Linked DNA regions of Homo sapiens: region 2 is linked to region 1. A link means that fine-mapping ties the variant in region 1 to the expression of a gene that starts in the linked region. Tissue or cell type: atrial appendage. Region 1 holds a variant in brackets; the other region holds the start of a gene. All regions are shown on one strand. Distances are between the middles of the regions.

Region 1 (8,111 bases):
TGACTATGCATATGAGCACAGAAATGCCATTCCCATTAAAATCAGGGAAAAGACATACTATGTAACAGTATACTAGAAATTCTCTACTATTCAATTATGCATAGGAATAAATTACGATATATAAACTTAAAAATATAAAGTACCAACACTGTATACAATTTATATAGTACACTCAGAAAAAAAACAGAAAAAATAAACTAGACATCACCTGTAAAATGGAGATGATAAAATAAAGAAATAAATAAACAAACTGGACAGCCATTAGAATTCAGAGTTCAGCAAAAAGGCCAAAAACAAAATATTTATATGAAAAATAAATAGTTGTTTTACTCCAACAATAACAAGTTAAAAATATAATGAAATAATTTATCCACAGTAGCAATAAAAATATTGCTAGCATAGGAATGACTACAATGAGAAGTATATCACCAATATTAACATAACTGCTATAATTTTCTGAGAAACAAAAGTTATAAAACATTCACTTTTTCTCAGATTTATACTTTGGTGCATTTTCACTCAGAATAAAAAAGAGAATGTTTATTAAGTGATAACATGATATGAAGACCTTCTAGAAGACAAACTGGTGGGAATAACAAAGCAAAGAAAATAATTAAAGAGATAAAATCTAAGAATAAGGGTGAGGATAGCACTAGCCCTTTGAGATATTAAGACAGTCACACATATAAGGCTACAAAAGTGAAAAAAAAATTAGGTGGGAAGCAATTATGTATGCATATATCACAGAAATAAGCTATTATATCTTTTATTTTCATATTTGAAAAAAAGGCATTCTAAATCTATGTTTAAAAATATTATCCAGTGAAGAAGTTTGGTTCAATTGGCTAGCAACTTGCAGAAAATAGAGTTTAGATTTTTAAATACCACCATACAATAAAGGCTGGGTTGATTGGTTGGTTGATTGATTTTTGAAATGTTTGATGTATTAGTTCCCAACTGGAGATTTGAATCAGAATCTCTTCTGGAGCTTTCTTCACATGCATGTTTGTGCCTGGGGACCACTCTTGGACAAGTGCAAAGGACAAGGAGTCAATGGACAATGGCTTATGTAATCTAATGTGCAAAACCCCTTCTGCCATTGAAAGACACGGAATTGAGTTCAAATCCTGACTCTGCTATTAGGTGTGTGACTTTAGGAAACTGAAACTTGGTTTTGATGATCTTACATTTCCCCAATTATAAAATGAGAATGAAAATAATAACTATTTTAAAACATTATTTTGAGGATTAAATAAAATGACTTACATAAAGTACCTAGATTTCATGCTTCTAATTCATTAAAAAATACACCGATACATGAGTTTGTTTCTCTGTCTGGAAAATCACATCTTTAAAAGTAAAACAAATTTTTATAATAAATTTAATTTTTTGCCTTCAGTTCTCAAGGGAAAAGGAGGAAGCATCACCACACACTCAGCTCCCAGCCTTTTACTTTACACGTCTAAACTTAAAATACAAAACTTAGACTTGAGCAACTGTGGTTAAAAATCTAAGAGAGAAACAATAAAAATAGAGAAGAATCCAACATATTCAGTTAGTATTTCTTCTAAAGAAGGAGAATGAAGCATCTAATATTTCTTATGCATGAAATCAAAGACATATTCAGGCACATAGCAGAAATGCTTTAATGACCTAGAAAAGAGTTGTAAAAACCCTGGCTTATTTGATTCCTCAAGTTGCACACCACCAGAAGACCACGGAGTAAGTAGTACTGAATTAAAATGTAAGCACAGAAAACTAGGTCCCAAACTATCAAAAAATGATTCCCAATTCTAAATGTTCAACCACATCTATCTTAAAATATTTATAATATTTTTTTCAAATTATCTCATACTATTCCAAATGATTAGTTTTCCCTGCTATATTTTCTCAACTTTCAAATTAAAATTCTTTGCTTTAAAGTTAGCATTGTGATTTGTCATTTTCTATATCCCATTCCAAAAAAACTCTCTAATGGAAAAAAATGTTTAGTACATTCCTTCAGTTAGAAAATTATCATTGCTACCTTAGCAATCTATTAACATTCTTGGGAGAATTCTTACTTACATCAAAAATGTGGAAAGAACAGATTTAATACAAGTTCAACTGCTTTTATGCAAAACAAAACACGTTTTATAATTTTGGTCACAATCTCTAAGTAAACAAAACTTCTATTCTAATGGAATAACGCATCTCTCATTTCTATTATCCTGACACAAATACACACTTACTTAATATTCTGTTTGTGTGCTATCACCCTTCCCTGTAATGCTAGCAAAGAGTTTTAATTTTCCCCAAAAACCTCAAACTACAGATGGATAATTTTATAGACTTTGTGATTTTCAGCACAATCACTCCTCACTGAACACTTCCTGTCACCATCTGCCTCTTTTAAGGCCAAATAGGACTTTTCTTGGCTTGTTTATTTTTCTCCACAATCTGTTGTCTGACATTTTTCTCACCACCTTCTGGCCTTCTGTATTTTTGGATAGCTGCTCCAATCTGCACTCTTCCCACTCTTGTGTCTCCTGATTTTTCCAATGGGTCTTGAATGTCAATCAGTGGGCTGTACTCATTCACACAGAATGTGTTTGCTTTACCACTGGTTGGTGATATTTGCGTTTTAAACAACACCCTTATTAAATTCCTGAGTCTATTATTCTGAATAACTACCTACATTGGTGTCATCTGTCTTAGAATGAAGGCTTAGAGGACAAAAAACTCTCAGTCCACCTGTCAGAATTCAATTCCAAGAGTACGACATGAATTTGATCTTGAGGTCCTTCATAAGTTGCACTCAGTGAAATGTGCCCACACAGAACAAAAACAAAAAAGTAAGTCAGACTTTGTTAATACTGAATAGAAAATGACTAATGGTTCTCAATTTTCCCATTCACTACAAATTATTTATTAAGTACCCACCATGTTCCAAGCACGATACCAGGGGCTGGAGATTTAATGTCTTTTTTTTTTTTTTAAGACAGACAAAATATTAAAGTTGTAATAAAAGGAACTGAACTTAAGGCCCTAGACACTTTTGGATGAGTAAAATGGTGAGGCTTCACATTTATACTGATATGATCTAGTTAACTTAGTGCTTTTTTCTACATCACTTTCTCTGGGCTAAAATCATAGTTCTAAATGAAATGCATTTTCTACCATCAAAAAAGACAAAGCTAATGATAAAAAAAAAAAATACTGCCAATAAATATTTGTGGAATGAATGAATGGCTGCCAGTTCTACTGTTTGTAGTTTTACAATCCTAAAGTCAATTAAACTCTCTGAGTCTATTTCTTCATCTGTAAAATAGAAGTATAATTCCTACTTCATTACATTGTTGAATGAAAAGAGATAATCTCTGTGAAGCCCAGGCTCTTAGAAACTGCTCTATAATGAATAGCTCTGTCTCCAAGTCAAAGGCAATTCAATAATACCAAGGGAATTATATTTAACTTAGTCCAAATATTTTCATATGGCTACACTTGACTTCTAGGAAATTTACTCATTTTTTTTAAAGTCTAAACTAAGGAGAATTGGACAGTTTCCCAATTTTTATAACCATCAACATC[T/C]TATCTGTTGCCATTCCTCCACCCCACTCACCCATTCCTTCTTCTGCCCCCTAATCCATTCCATATTATTTTCTAGTCTAAGAAAATGGCTCTTTCTTTCTGTCCCCTAAGCCCAGTGGTTTATTTGCATCTTTTGTAAATAAACCTGCCAGCTTTCTAAATAAAACCTAACTCCAGTCCTGCAAGATTACAGTGAAGAAAGCATCTCATAAGATAAAGAGAAGCTGGAGGTCAGAATTCTCTTTTTTACCAAATTCCATTCATTCATGGACTCATTGACACATTCGAAAATATTTTCTGAGTCCCCACTGTGTGCCAGGCACTGTCCAAGCTGATGAGAATACAGTGCTGAGAGAGACAGAGAAGGTCCCTGGTGCCACTGAGCTTATGGCCTAACAGGATAAACAACTGTAAAACAGGTTGATGAGGAGGCATATGTGGGGCCACCGCACTATCTAGGACAAACCTATATAACCCAGGCCGGGGGAATCAAGAAGGCGGAACCCCTACTGTGAAATCTAGTAATTGAGAAGAAGATAGCCAGGCAATGATGGGGAAGACCAGTCCAAGCAGAGGAAACGGCATGTGCAAAGCCTGGCATGAGCAGAGTTTGGGGCCTCTGGAGATCAAGCAAGTTATGTTGAAGAGCCTAAATTGTCTACCGCATATTCTCCCTTTGATGATTTCTACTGTGTTACCCTAAAGCCTCCAGCACCCTTTTGTGTAAGTGCCTCAGCCTGCCATGAGCTACACTACTGGAAATTTAAAACAATATTTTGTGTCTCCCCTAGGGGCCAGAGCATTAAGGGGAGCAGTGCCCCCACCACTAGCTAGCCCAATAGTGGCAGTGGTCACCGCCCAGAGCCCCCAGAGGGGCAGGTGAATGAATGAAGGGTAGGCAGAGTCAGGGCCAGAGGATCGGTGAAGACCCTCCCATGTGCCTTCTCCCTCCATCGCCAAGCTTAGAAGATCGTGTGTAACTTTATTAAGGAAGCCAGAAAGCTTCCCTACACCTTACTTCAGAGCAATGCTTTCGTCTCAGCTACTGTTACGGTTGAGTTGGCGCAGGAGTAGGGAAGTAGCTGAGCTGGCAGGGGAGTGCAGGCGGGAAGATTCCTTGTGTAGTCTGGGCCTTAAGTTTTAAGAAAAACGTTAACGCCATGCCTAGAACTGCAGAACCCAAGGCCAGCTTCTAATTCCCGGTTTTATATTTAGTGTTTACCTCTGGGGGATCTAGATCCTAAAGAAAACTAACTAAACAAACAAAAAAATCTGTGTCATTCTTGGACCGAAAACAAAAACTTACATTCTCCCATGTTACCTAAAAGGAAGACACAGGACTTCTATATATGTGACAAATATATATATATATGCACTATACCTGTGTACTACACAAATATGTACTATATGTATGTATGTAATATATATGTACTGTATATACTATATATGTACTAGACAAACAAATATATGCTATATTTGTGACAAATATAACATGTAACACATCACTATATAAATGTATTTGTATTAATTTTGATCTCTATATTTCTACATCATTTAAATTATACACTTGAGCTACAAAATAATTAGGTGAATAGGTGAAATAATTAGAGAATAAAAGGAAGACATGGAATATATAATAAATGTTTACCAAAAAGCTTTTACTCATAGTGAAAATTTAAGTATTAGTCATTATTAATTGTCCCAAAGCATACTTTAAAGGAAATAATGCTAAGAAAATATTAAAGATTGTGGTGACAGCTCCTCTGAGCAGGAGGAGCTGGTTTCATTTTGCTGTATTTAATCCAAATGATAAAGGAATTTAATAAAATTACCCTCTAGGTAGCAGTAGTTTTAAAAAATAATCCAAATCCGTTCTGACACAATAGCTCTCCAGAGAATAACAGTAGATCCTACAAATGACAGAGGAAGAAACTCACCTCGTCTGCTGCCCCCATGTAGAGAAAAATAGATTAACTCACTGCCATGGAATCCTGTAAAGATCATTCTCCAAAGGTTTTTCCACCAATCAGAAGGTCAGTGATCTAGAGATATTCTGGAGACCGGCACTATTAACATTTTCATTAATTATATCTATTTATGATTTGTCAGCAGCAAGGCTAAGGAGGAGATAAATTAAAGATTCAAAACCAATGCCCTGTTCAAACATATTCATTTGGAATTAATTTGTAATAATGAGGTGATTATGAGACAACTCATTCATCTGGTGCTAATTATATTTTGTTTTTTTTTTTAAATAATGGCTGTTTTTCCAATCTGGCATTTTGTAATGTCACTAAAGTTCACTTCAAAATGCAAATATATCCTAAGACAATAACCAGCTGTCCCTGCGGTCATGTGAGGTGGTACTTTTCAAGCTCAATTTGGTTTCTGGATGCATTCTTCTAAATTATTTTTTATATACACTGTAAATAAGTACATATGTGTATATATGTAAATATGTGTGTGTGTGTATGTGTGTGTGTGTGTATATATATATATTACTTTATCTCTATATCTACGTTATCCAGGATACTTTGGCTCAACATTTCTTAAGTCAAATTTTGCAGACCAGTCAATATTCATCAAACTACTTTAAGATGGAGCCAAGTGGCCTACAAGAGAATACTGCTAAGGCTGTTAACACATATAATTTATGCAGGAGAATATTCCAAGCTTCCTGACTGCATCACACTTTTAACTTTTTCTTACATTCGAAACTACACTTAGAATCATAACAAACTTCATTTTTCAAACGTTTGACTTTGAGGTGTGTACAAGTATACTCTGACTCTATAAACTTACTCTTCTTTAAAGCAGATCATCCTATTTATCATAAGATTATTAAAAATGTATACCTTTGCTTTTATTTGCCATAAAAAAAGCTTTCTTTGGAATAAAATAGATTTTTATCCAAAGATGCAGAACTGTTTTCAAGATAAATCCAATCTGATCAATTTGACAGATTAAGACTCTCTTCAATAGTAATTCCTCAAATTATTTAAATAATTTATGAAACAGTAAAGGCTTAAAATATGAATTACATAGCCTTAAAAGTTCTAGATCCTTCATGGATTTTATTTTTGGTTTATTATTGCAGGAAAATACATACAAATCTTTTGAGAAAAATAACAAAACCAAGACTTTTTTTCCCAGTGTGCTATAAGCGAGCTCAATAAATGTTTCAAAGTGAACGATTTTTCTTGTCCATATCAAAATAGAATACTCGTCAAATGCTATTAATAATTTAACTTAGAATAGAATCATAAATATGCATGAATGGAAGATCACTTCCTGTATCTCCATGCTCAGAAGACCTTTGACTAAACATTTCCAGAAAGATAAACAGCTGCCCAATTTTCAGGTATCTCCAAGCACGTCAATGCCAGAGGCTCTGAGAAAAAGAAAAGGCTTACATGACATCTTCTGTGACCTCTTGAGCTGTGTTGGTTGTCCCCTCCTCTGTGTTCCTGTTCATGCCTGTAACACAACTCCTAGCATGTCCCTTAATTATCTATTTACACATCAATTTCTCACAGGAAAGTTTCCAAAGCATTTTAGTTATCCTTGCTTTTTATTTGAGAAAGTAAGCTCAGAAAAGTTAAGTAACTTGCTTAAAGCCTCAAAGGTAGTACTGATAAAGCCAGAATTCAGCTAAGAGCTATGAGTCCAAAGCCTCTTGAATTCTCCATCATACTATGTTTCTGCCTCAAATATGGCATCACTCCTAATGAAGCTGGTGTTCAAAACATGCCTGCTAATTAATTACATGTACAAATGCCTTACATGTACATGTTCTGGGTCACCATGCTGGGTACTGGAGAGAACTGTGTGAACAAGATTCCCGTTCTCTATCCCCCAATTCTTCACTTTGGACCCAGCATCACATGGTTTCCAGGCCCGTGGACTCAGGAAAAGTGGCGTTGGACATGCAATTACAACACACTATAGAGACATGGCATCAAGGTAGAGATGAAAAGAAGGGACAAGAATAGCCACTTAAGAAGGGTAGAGTAAGAGGGAAGAGGGGAAGAAAAGAATGTTGAGGCCAGGGAACTGGCATATACAACATGTGAGAGACAAGAAAGAGCAAGTTTTGTTAAAATGAGAAAAGCCCTGTAGAGCTAGGGCTCAGAGAGTGCAAGTGTGACACTGCAGAGGTGTGCAGGGACCCAGCCAGAAGAATCTCAAGCGCATGCGAAGAAGTCTGGGTTTGATTCTAGGTGTAACAGTGAGCACCTGCAGGGAATTAAGCAGAGGAACGTTACAGATTTTGGATTCGAGAAAATCACTGGTTATAACGGTGCAAAAAGAAATGGAATACATGGCTGCTTAGAGGCTGGGAAGCCAATGACTGAAGCATTGAAGAGGTGAAGATGATGACTCTAGAACTTCTTCCCAGCATACAGATGTAAATAGATCACTGTTTACTTTTTAAACATGTTCATATTTTTTAAATGTGAAGAAACATACCTTTCTCACCTCCCTCAGAGGGTTGTTTTTAGGATAAAGTGCACAGTGGCAATGCTGCCTGCCTGAGACAG
Region 2 (8,111 bases), 38 kb after region 1:
GGAATTTGCTTTGCCTTTTGATGAATTCAAAAGTTGAACATCTTGCAAAGAAAGTCATTTTCAGGAGATAACCTCAACTACACCCCATGTCCTGTACCAAGCATGTATAAAGATCACTTCTTTCTGCTCAGGAAGAGAGCTAATTGTATCAACAAACATCTCTGTCCAAAAACTGCTAGTCTAACAAAGTAAACCTCTAGCTTGCTTATTCTACCACAAGAAAGGGCTTTTTGTGGGTATGTTGTTGTATTTTCTTGGAGTTCTTCTGTTACGACAACTAAATCCTTAGAAATCCACTGTTTTTTTAATGTTCAGGAAAAGAATCTAGATTAAGAAAACTAATCAACAAATCTGACACCTCTCTTGCTGGAAAATAAAACAAAAGTGAGCAATTTCACCTCAAAATTTCAGTCAAGTAAACACATTTCTTAAGTTCAATATTATTTCCTAAAGCTGAATCAGAAAGGTTATTTCAAACCAAAAAATAAGGTACTTAAAAGGTGAAAATAGTAAAGACAATTGGCCCTTTTTCAAAAGCAGGGGTCCTAGTGAAGACAGATATCTATACCAGCTATTTTGGAATTTGTAAATGTCAACAAACTGTACATTTCCTGTCTTTTGTCATCAATTCTTCAATAATCCAGTCTCCCTGACCTGCTGACCTACTGTCTTTTGTCATCAATTCTTCAATAATCCAGTCTCCCTGACCTGCTGACCTACTGTCTTTTGTCATCAATTCTTCAATAATCCAGTCTCCCTGACCTGCTGACCTTACTGTCTTTTTCTCCAGTCCTCCCAAAGCCGATCTTGCAGCCTCACATCCCTTTATGCTGTTCTTCAAGCTCCCAATTCTCTATTGCCCTCAGGGCAAGCGACTATCTTCTGTGTTATCTTCTATGGGTTGTGCAGAGGCACAACTCACAGACGCCTGGTCCACCTTGAGTATACAGGTGCTCAAAAAAAACACTGAATGAGCCCACTTGTACCTCAGAATAAGTATTCCTTTTTACTTCTTAAAATAGTTTAACCTAAAAGAAACTGAAAGGCCATTTAAGAATGGTGAACATTTTCCTTTTTCCAAACTTCCTTAAAGTTAATTCACACAAGCACCATCAAACTTGTATACTGATCAGATCTCTATATTTACTAGTTTCCTGAAGATCTCTAACCTCCTTGACGCTCATAAAAGGTGATGGAGGGGGATATCACCTTGTACTTTTGTTAGTGTTGGTTTATAATAGTTTATTTCTACTTTTAAAAATATAAGGGACACAGACATTTTGTATTCTATTAGTAATACCATAGACTTAGAGTCTCCTTCATTTAAAAAGGAATTGTAAAGTACATATTGTACAACACTTCCGAGTTTGTCTCTGTAAGAGGAATTCAATCAACGTATTTTGAATGTATGAAGAATAAAACATTTTATTTTAATACACTGTGTTATGCAGCTATTGATGGATTCATTTTTTCCACACTGCATATTCAGTATTTTTCCATAATGTAGATTATTTCATAATGTATATTCAAGCCCGCTGTGTGCCAAACATGAGCTGGGTGCTGGAATCAGGGTCCCCACTTCATACAGCTTGCAATCTAAAAGAAGGATTTGCAAACCTTGATGAACTATATATTCCAGATACTTAAGCAAAGAAATCATTGTTTTCATTTTCTAAAGCATATCACATTCTAACTGTAATATCACTTTAAAATTTTATTTCCAAATTTGAAACAACAAAAAGTTAAACATTAGCTTTCATATAATCTCTTGAAGTAACAACGCAAAAAACTCTGGGATCAATCTACAAAATAGAGTAACAAAGGGTTCTCATTAAGTAAGCAGCAGGAGACTCACAAATACTTACATTAGCTTTAACTGTGCCTAGGATATCTTGGCTTTGGTTATTGGATTTAGCTGAAAATCAGTTATCACATTTTAAATTTTTCCCTGTCTTCAGATAACAGTATGAAACTAAGTTTCAAAATGTCCAATCCTACATGCTGAATCCTGGTAGATAAGAGTAGTTAATATTAAATGTTTTCTAGGATCTGATCTTAGAATTTTGACAGCAAACTTACATGAACCTTTTTTTCTTATATTATTTGAAGGTAAGAAATATTTCCTGAAGATTTATTCTTGATCAACCCACCTACTATATATTTGAAGATCAAAATGTCTATTGATCACTTATTTTAATCTCTTCTCAGTTTGGTTCTTACGTATCATTATAAAACTATACTGGCCCTGCACTGAGAATTTTTAGCCTACTTTTCTTGCTTGCTTTGTCATTAAACAAAAATTAAGCATCCATCCCATGCTGATATTATTAGCACAGATTACTTTAGCTGTACCTTGATTATCAGAAGACCAGGCCCAAATTATTTCCTAAGCAGAAACATAACGAAAAAAGTCCCAAGAACATTTTTAAATACCTCTTTATTAATACTAAATGCATCACAATTAACATAAACCAAAAGGTGCTTTAATATACTCCTAGGAAAGACGAATACAGATGGTTATTTGGGAACATCAGTTGGAATAAAGACCCCATCACAAACTATTCATCTCAAATGGTTATAGCAGAGAAAATGGAATACTCCTTTTTCCTTGGAAAGGCCTTGTGCAGTTTCAAAATCTGGTTTCAAAAGTCAGAAACCACTTTTCACCCTGGTAGGAGGAGGGGCACCAACGTATCTTTATACACCACCACCCCAGATTGGCAATATCCCTAAGATTCCCCAAGCATCCACAGCAGCGAGTGTACCTAATACGTATACACACACAGGTAGAGATGGGTACACAGAGCCAATAAACTGGTCCTCTGGAAATTAGAGAAAACATGATAAATGACTCTTTCTCCCTCGTTCTCCTTTCCTCTCAATCACTGCCTTCTGCACCTTATCTTTCTACTCTTGTCAGCAAGGAAGACCAACCCCCCTTGCGGGGGACTCGCAATCATTCCTTTGGGTTTTTCACACAGCAAAGTGAGAGCGACCGCTGGGGTTGCGTGCGTCAGGATTTGTTTTTTCTGTATTGCTATCCCCCCCATCCCCCGCCACCCCAGCCTCCCAAGCCTATACTTACTAGAGGGTGGCCTAAGGTCTGGGGAGATGGGATTGGTGCTGGGGGGATGGGACGGGAAAGCAGAAATTGGGCCACTGGCGCTCTAAGTCGGGTTCTTCCCCATTTCCATCCCTCCCTCCACTTCCCACCTTCCACCTTAGATACCTTTTACCAAGAGGCACCCCTGGGCCCATCCCTCCCTCCTTCCCCCACCGCCACCAGTCCCACCCTCTGCCGCCCCCCTCCGGGATGCCCCCAGGGCTGTCAGGGGGCAGCGCCCTTACCAGGCTCATGGACGCCAGGGTTGTCGGACAGCTCGATGACCAGGAGCTCCCGGCCCTCGAAGCTGCGCCCCACCGTGTAAATCCTGCTGATGGCGGTGCACTGCAGCCACACGGACACGAGCGCCTCGCGCAGCTCGGGGTAGCGGTGGTACTCGAAGGAGATGCCGTCCTCTTGCTGCAGCCGCCGGCGCCGCCTCATGCCCGCCGCGGGCGCCCCGGGCTCCTGGGCTTCGGCGCCCAGGAGCCACCCGCAGGCAGCCAGTGCCCCGCACAGAGCCAGCAGCGCGCTGCCCCCTCGCCCGGCCATCGCTGCGCTCCGCCGCCGCCGGCCGTGCCTTCCTACGCGGGCGGCCTCTTTTGTCTGCCCGGCCCTGGGCTTAGCCCGCCGGCGCTGCTGGGGGCGGCAAGTTCCGCACCAGCCTCTACTCGCCTCACCTTCCCCGGCTGAATGAGTGTCAGCCCGCGCACTGGGGCCACCCAGAGGAGACGGGCAAAGCCGCGGCTCCACGGGCTGCACTACTGGCCGCGGAGCCCAGGGGAGCTGCAGGAGAAACCACTGCGAGGAGGGGGCCGGCGGAGAGACGGGCCGGCGTGGATCTGGGAGGGCTGCTGGCGTTATTTGCTGGCTCGGAACCACGTCAACAGCCAAATGGCGTCCGGGACGACGCAGGTGAAATGACAGCTAAGGTCCGGGGTTCGGGAACGTTACTGTCATTGAGACACCCATGACCCACCCACGTCACTGCGTATGGAAAAAATATTCTTGTATTGTTAGTGGAGCCTTTTAAAGGGACATCTATTCCAAGCCTACCAGTTTCCATCTTGATCCACCAAGAATTAGAGAATATTCCAGAAAAAAGGAAGTACTGGCAGCCACTTGCCATCTCCTGATGCGTCTTTCATAATTGTATCAAGAGTCAAAACACAAACCCAAGGGTTGGGTTTTCATTTATTAGAAGGTCTTGCTGGAAATCAGAACATTAAGTGCTTTGATTTAGAGGTTTAAGAGAATAGAAATGCTTTCTTCCAATTTGTAGATACTGTCCTTAATTGTATTTATGCACATTCCTAGATTCTTCCAGAAAACAAACAGACAAAATAAATAAGGCAATGTCATATGGCTGTGCCTGCACCAGCCCTCCTCTTTAATACTATGGGGAAAATAAGTACAACTCTGCTGATGCTTTAGACAAAGGATTTAGTTTGGCATTAAGATTAAATCCTGTTAAGAAAACTCTGATGATGACATGACACCTCCGTTCCTTTTGCAAAGCTATTGTAAAAATAAAAAATCATTTACAGCTTTAAATATCCACCCCTTAGTCGGGATTTATATTCCTGGAGCAATGTCTGGAGCAGATGTTACTCTAAAGAGGCTGCTGTTTGGATTCAGGGACAGCACAAATCTAAATTAATAAATAATCCATTGGGTATTGCAACCGAGCAGGAAAAGTGGACACCATGCGGGTAATTTTCCATGTTAAGCTTCTTTGTTTTTCTAAACTTGTTCATTCTTCACCTGTTTAACAATGCATTGCACATAATAAAAACTTTTACGTGGAAAAGGAGTTAGATATTTAAGTCATCTTATTGGATCAATAAATAAAAGCACAGACATGGTTGGTAAGGTGCTGCTGGAGGGGCTGGCTTTAAACACCCCTATGTACATATACTACAGCAGCATGGATCTTCTTTTTTTTTTTTTTTTTTTTTTTGCGTTTTCGGGGAGAAACTGTCACTGTAAACACATGGCACTCAAGTTGAATTGATGTGGATCCAGCCATTTTTTTTTTTGTCAATGTAGGCAGAGCTAAAAATTGTATATTTTCCACTATGACCAGTCTGTGCTTGATTACATGGTCCAGAAGTTTGAAATCAAACTTATAATTATATTTCTAAAACCATGCCCAAAACAGCAACCTTGGAAGCCTAGAAAAAAAAATTGAGTAGCTAAAACCAAATAACTTCAGAAGTAGGAGGTTAAGATTTTCATGTTAGCAATTTAGAGTAACCACACTAATTTGTGGCTAGGTGGGGCATACTGACTAGTAACTACACACATAAACAACATATTTTTCATTGAAGTCCTGTGTTGTTCCTTAGCTGTCTCTTTGAACAAAGGATATGCGTTCTATTTTCTCCAAAATAAAAAATTTTGGAATGAAAACTTGGTCTTTGAATTTCTGGGCTATTTTTAGGTGTAGGTCAGCTGTACCAACTTTACTGGCATATGTATTACTTGTTTGTGGCTTCATAGGCAATTATACAAAAGATTATATATCCACCCTGATTGCTGGATTTAAAAAATTTTATTTTGGAGAAAAAAAAATTGTAATGTGTAAAATCATGCCTACTATGTGGTCTCACTTGTTGGGCAGGGGGTTCTCTTTTACAGCTTAGTTGTTTGTTTCCCTAATCTATAAAATAAAAGGTTTGGATTTTTCACTCTCTAACGTTTGCTTGCAACAGAATCATGTAGAGAGTTTATAGAATGTGCAGATTCTTAAGCCCCTATGAATTCATCAGGTCTGGGGTGGGTTTCAGGTATTAACAAGCTTCTAGGTTTTAAAAAGAAGACCAGTCATTTCTGATGTTGATGTTTGATTGACAAAGACATTTTGAGAAATAATGTACTGTAGGTTTCCCACTGTCTCTTTCAGACCTAAAATGCTATGATTCTGGAAATTTTCTTTTTGAAGTGAATTCCTGCTCATTTGATAAATGGTGGCACTCCTCACATATTATTGGTCGTACTACATACACCAAGGCATCAGTTCAAATGAACTAAAATTTGGTCTTTGAATTTCTGAGCTATTTTAGGTATAGGTCAGCTGTATCAACTTTACTGGCGTATGGATTACTTGTTTGTGGCTTCATAGGCAATTATGTAAAAGATTATATACCCATCCTGATTGCTGGATTAAAGAAAAATCTTGTATGCCAAGTCTTTAATGTGTGTACACATAGTTAAATTTAGTATGCAATCTCCATTTCAAATCATGTGCACACATGCACACACAAGAAACAAAAAGAGAAAGAAAGAGCTGCTTTTTCTTCATGTCATTATAGGCATCCATAAGAGCATATTTAAACTCCCTAGGTCTCCCTCCACTTCTTGCTTCACCTCTATTATCTTTAAATTAAGAAACTATCTTTTTCTTTATCAATAATATTTTATTTCCTTCTTTCAAAGCCCTTCCTAAAATTCGTCTACTTCATAAAAATTTTGTGAACACATAGCTCTATATTCATCCTGATGTGTGCTGGTAAATGTCAGCTGTCTGGGGGGAAAAGTCTGACTTAGAATGTTTGCTAATTTCCATGGTTTAAATATTCCCACCATGGCTGATTTCAAACTACCAATGTTGTATCACTGAATACAGTGTTAGGAAGAGATATGCAGTAGCATGACATCATATAGTGTTGTGATGGGACAATTCTTTATACTCCTCCTTTGCAAGTGATGAAACTTAATTTCTTCCATCTGAGTGTAGGCAGGACTTAGTGGTTTTCTCATGAACATAACACAGCAAAAGTAATGAGATGATCTTCCAAAATTAGGTTATTAAAAAGACTGCAGCTCCCATCTTAATTGCTCTCTCATGCTTGTGTGTGCGCTCTCTCCTCCCCCTCTCCCTCTCTCTCTCCCTCCTTTCCTTCCCCCAGTCCCCCATCACTCCATCGCTTGTCTTGGGGAAGTTGTCTGCCATATTGTGGAGAGGCTTATATAGCAAGGAACTGAGGCATCTGGCAAACAGCCTGAGAGAAACTGACATCCTCGGTCTAGCATTCAGTTAAGAACTGAGGTCTGTCAACAACCATGTGGGTGGGCAGGGGCAGATCTCAGCCCCACCTGAGCCTCAAGAGGGCTCCATCTCTGACATCTGAGGTTTACCACAGCCACATTAGAGACTCTGAGCCAGAACCACCACTAATACATACATCTCCCCCATACAGATACAATAGACATAAATAACCTCAAGAACATCAAGGATAGAGTGATGTCAGCAAGATAGCAGAATAGGAAGTTCCAGCCCTCATTTCCCAACAGAAACACAGATTTAACAGTGATATAAGTAACAAATTAGCTTCATAAGAAGTTCAGGATTAAGTTAAGAAATTTCAGTACCCCAGACAAACAAAAAATCACAATCAGCCACACTGAAACAGATAAGAAAAGCTATTTCACTTTACCTGCGAGTACAACTCAGCACCAGAGAGACTACAATCCTTTCCTGGTGTAGGGAGGGCAGGGGATAGAGAGTAGGGTGAGCATCCAACATTTCTGGCCTTTCAGTACACCCCTCAAGGGGCTGGCTTCTGTTGTGCCTCTTACAGAGTGCTTAAAGACATGGCATAGTCCAGATGCCTGGGAAAGCTAGGAGAATGGGCACCTTCCCATGGCTGGCAAGGCTCGGAGAGATCTGTAGAAGGCATAGAACTAAGGCCTCTCCTTCAGGAAAGAAGGAGGAGTGGATCATGACTCTAATGTCCTGAGCCTTTCAGTGAGCTCCCTGAAGAGCTAGTTTCTATCTCATCTCATATGGAGCACAGATGAGACTGACATGGGAACCAGAGGGAGCAAGAGATTGCTAGTGCTGAAAAGAAAAGAAAGGAAAAGAAAAAAGAAAAGAAAAGAAAAAGACTGAACACCTGGATCAGGACCTAGGAACAAGACCCAGAAACTCTATCTGGGCTGTCTTTCCCTATCAAAGCCAGTTCATTAAGAGTGGAGAACATGTCATTAAGACATGGATGTCACA

Evidence for each region. PIP is the estimated chance that this variant, and not a neighbour inherited with it, causes the effect.
Region 2: it holds the start of CPE, and the variant in region 1 is fine-mapped to the expression of CPE in atrial appendage (GTEx, PIP 0.98).

The regions. Positions count from the first base shown.
Region 1 is chr4:165,412,643-165,420,753 of GRCh38, reverse strand. The region is part of intron 1 of CPE (carboxypeptidase E); the gene reads right to left. Among named protein-coding and RNA genes, the nearest start is that of MIR578, 30 kb to the right of the region's middle. The variant T/C (reference allele first, on the strand shown) is at 3,571.
Region 2 is chr4:165,374,766-165,382,876 of GRCh38, reverse strand. It overlaps CPE (carboxypeptidase E), which reads right to left and starts at 3,869. Exons shown (of 9, transcript NM_001873.4): 1 at 3,349-3,869. The coding sequence starts at 3,655. RefSeq lists an enhancer at 1,553-2,097 and a silencer at 3,577-3,836.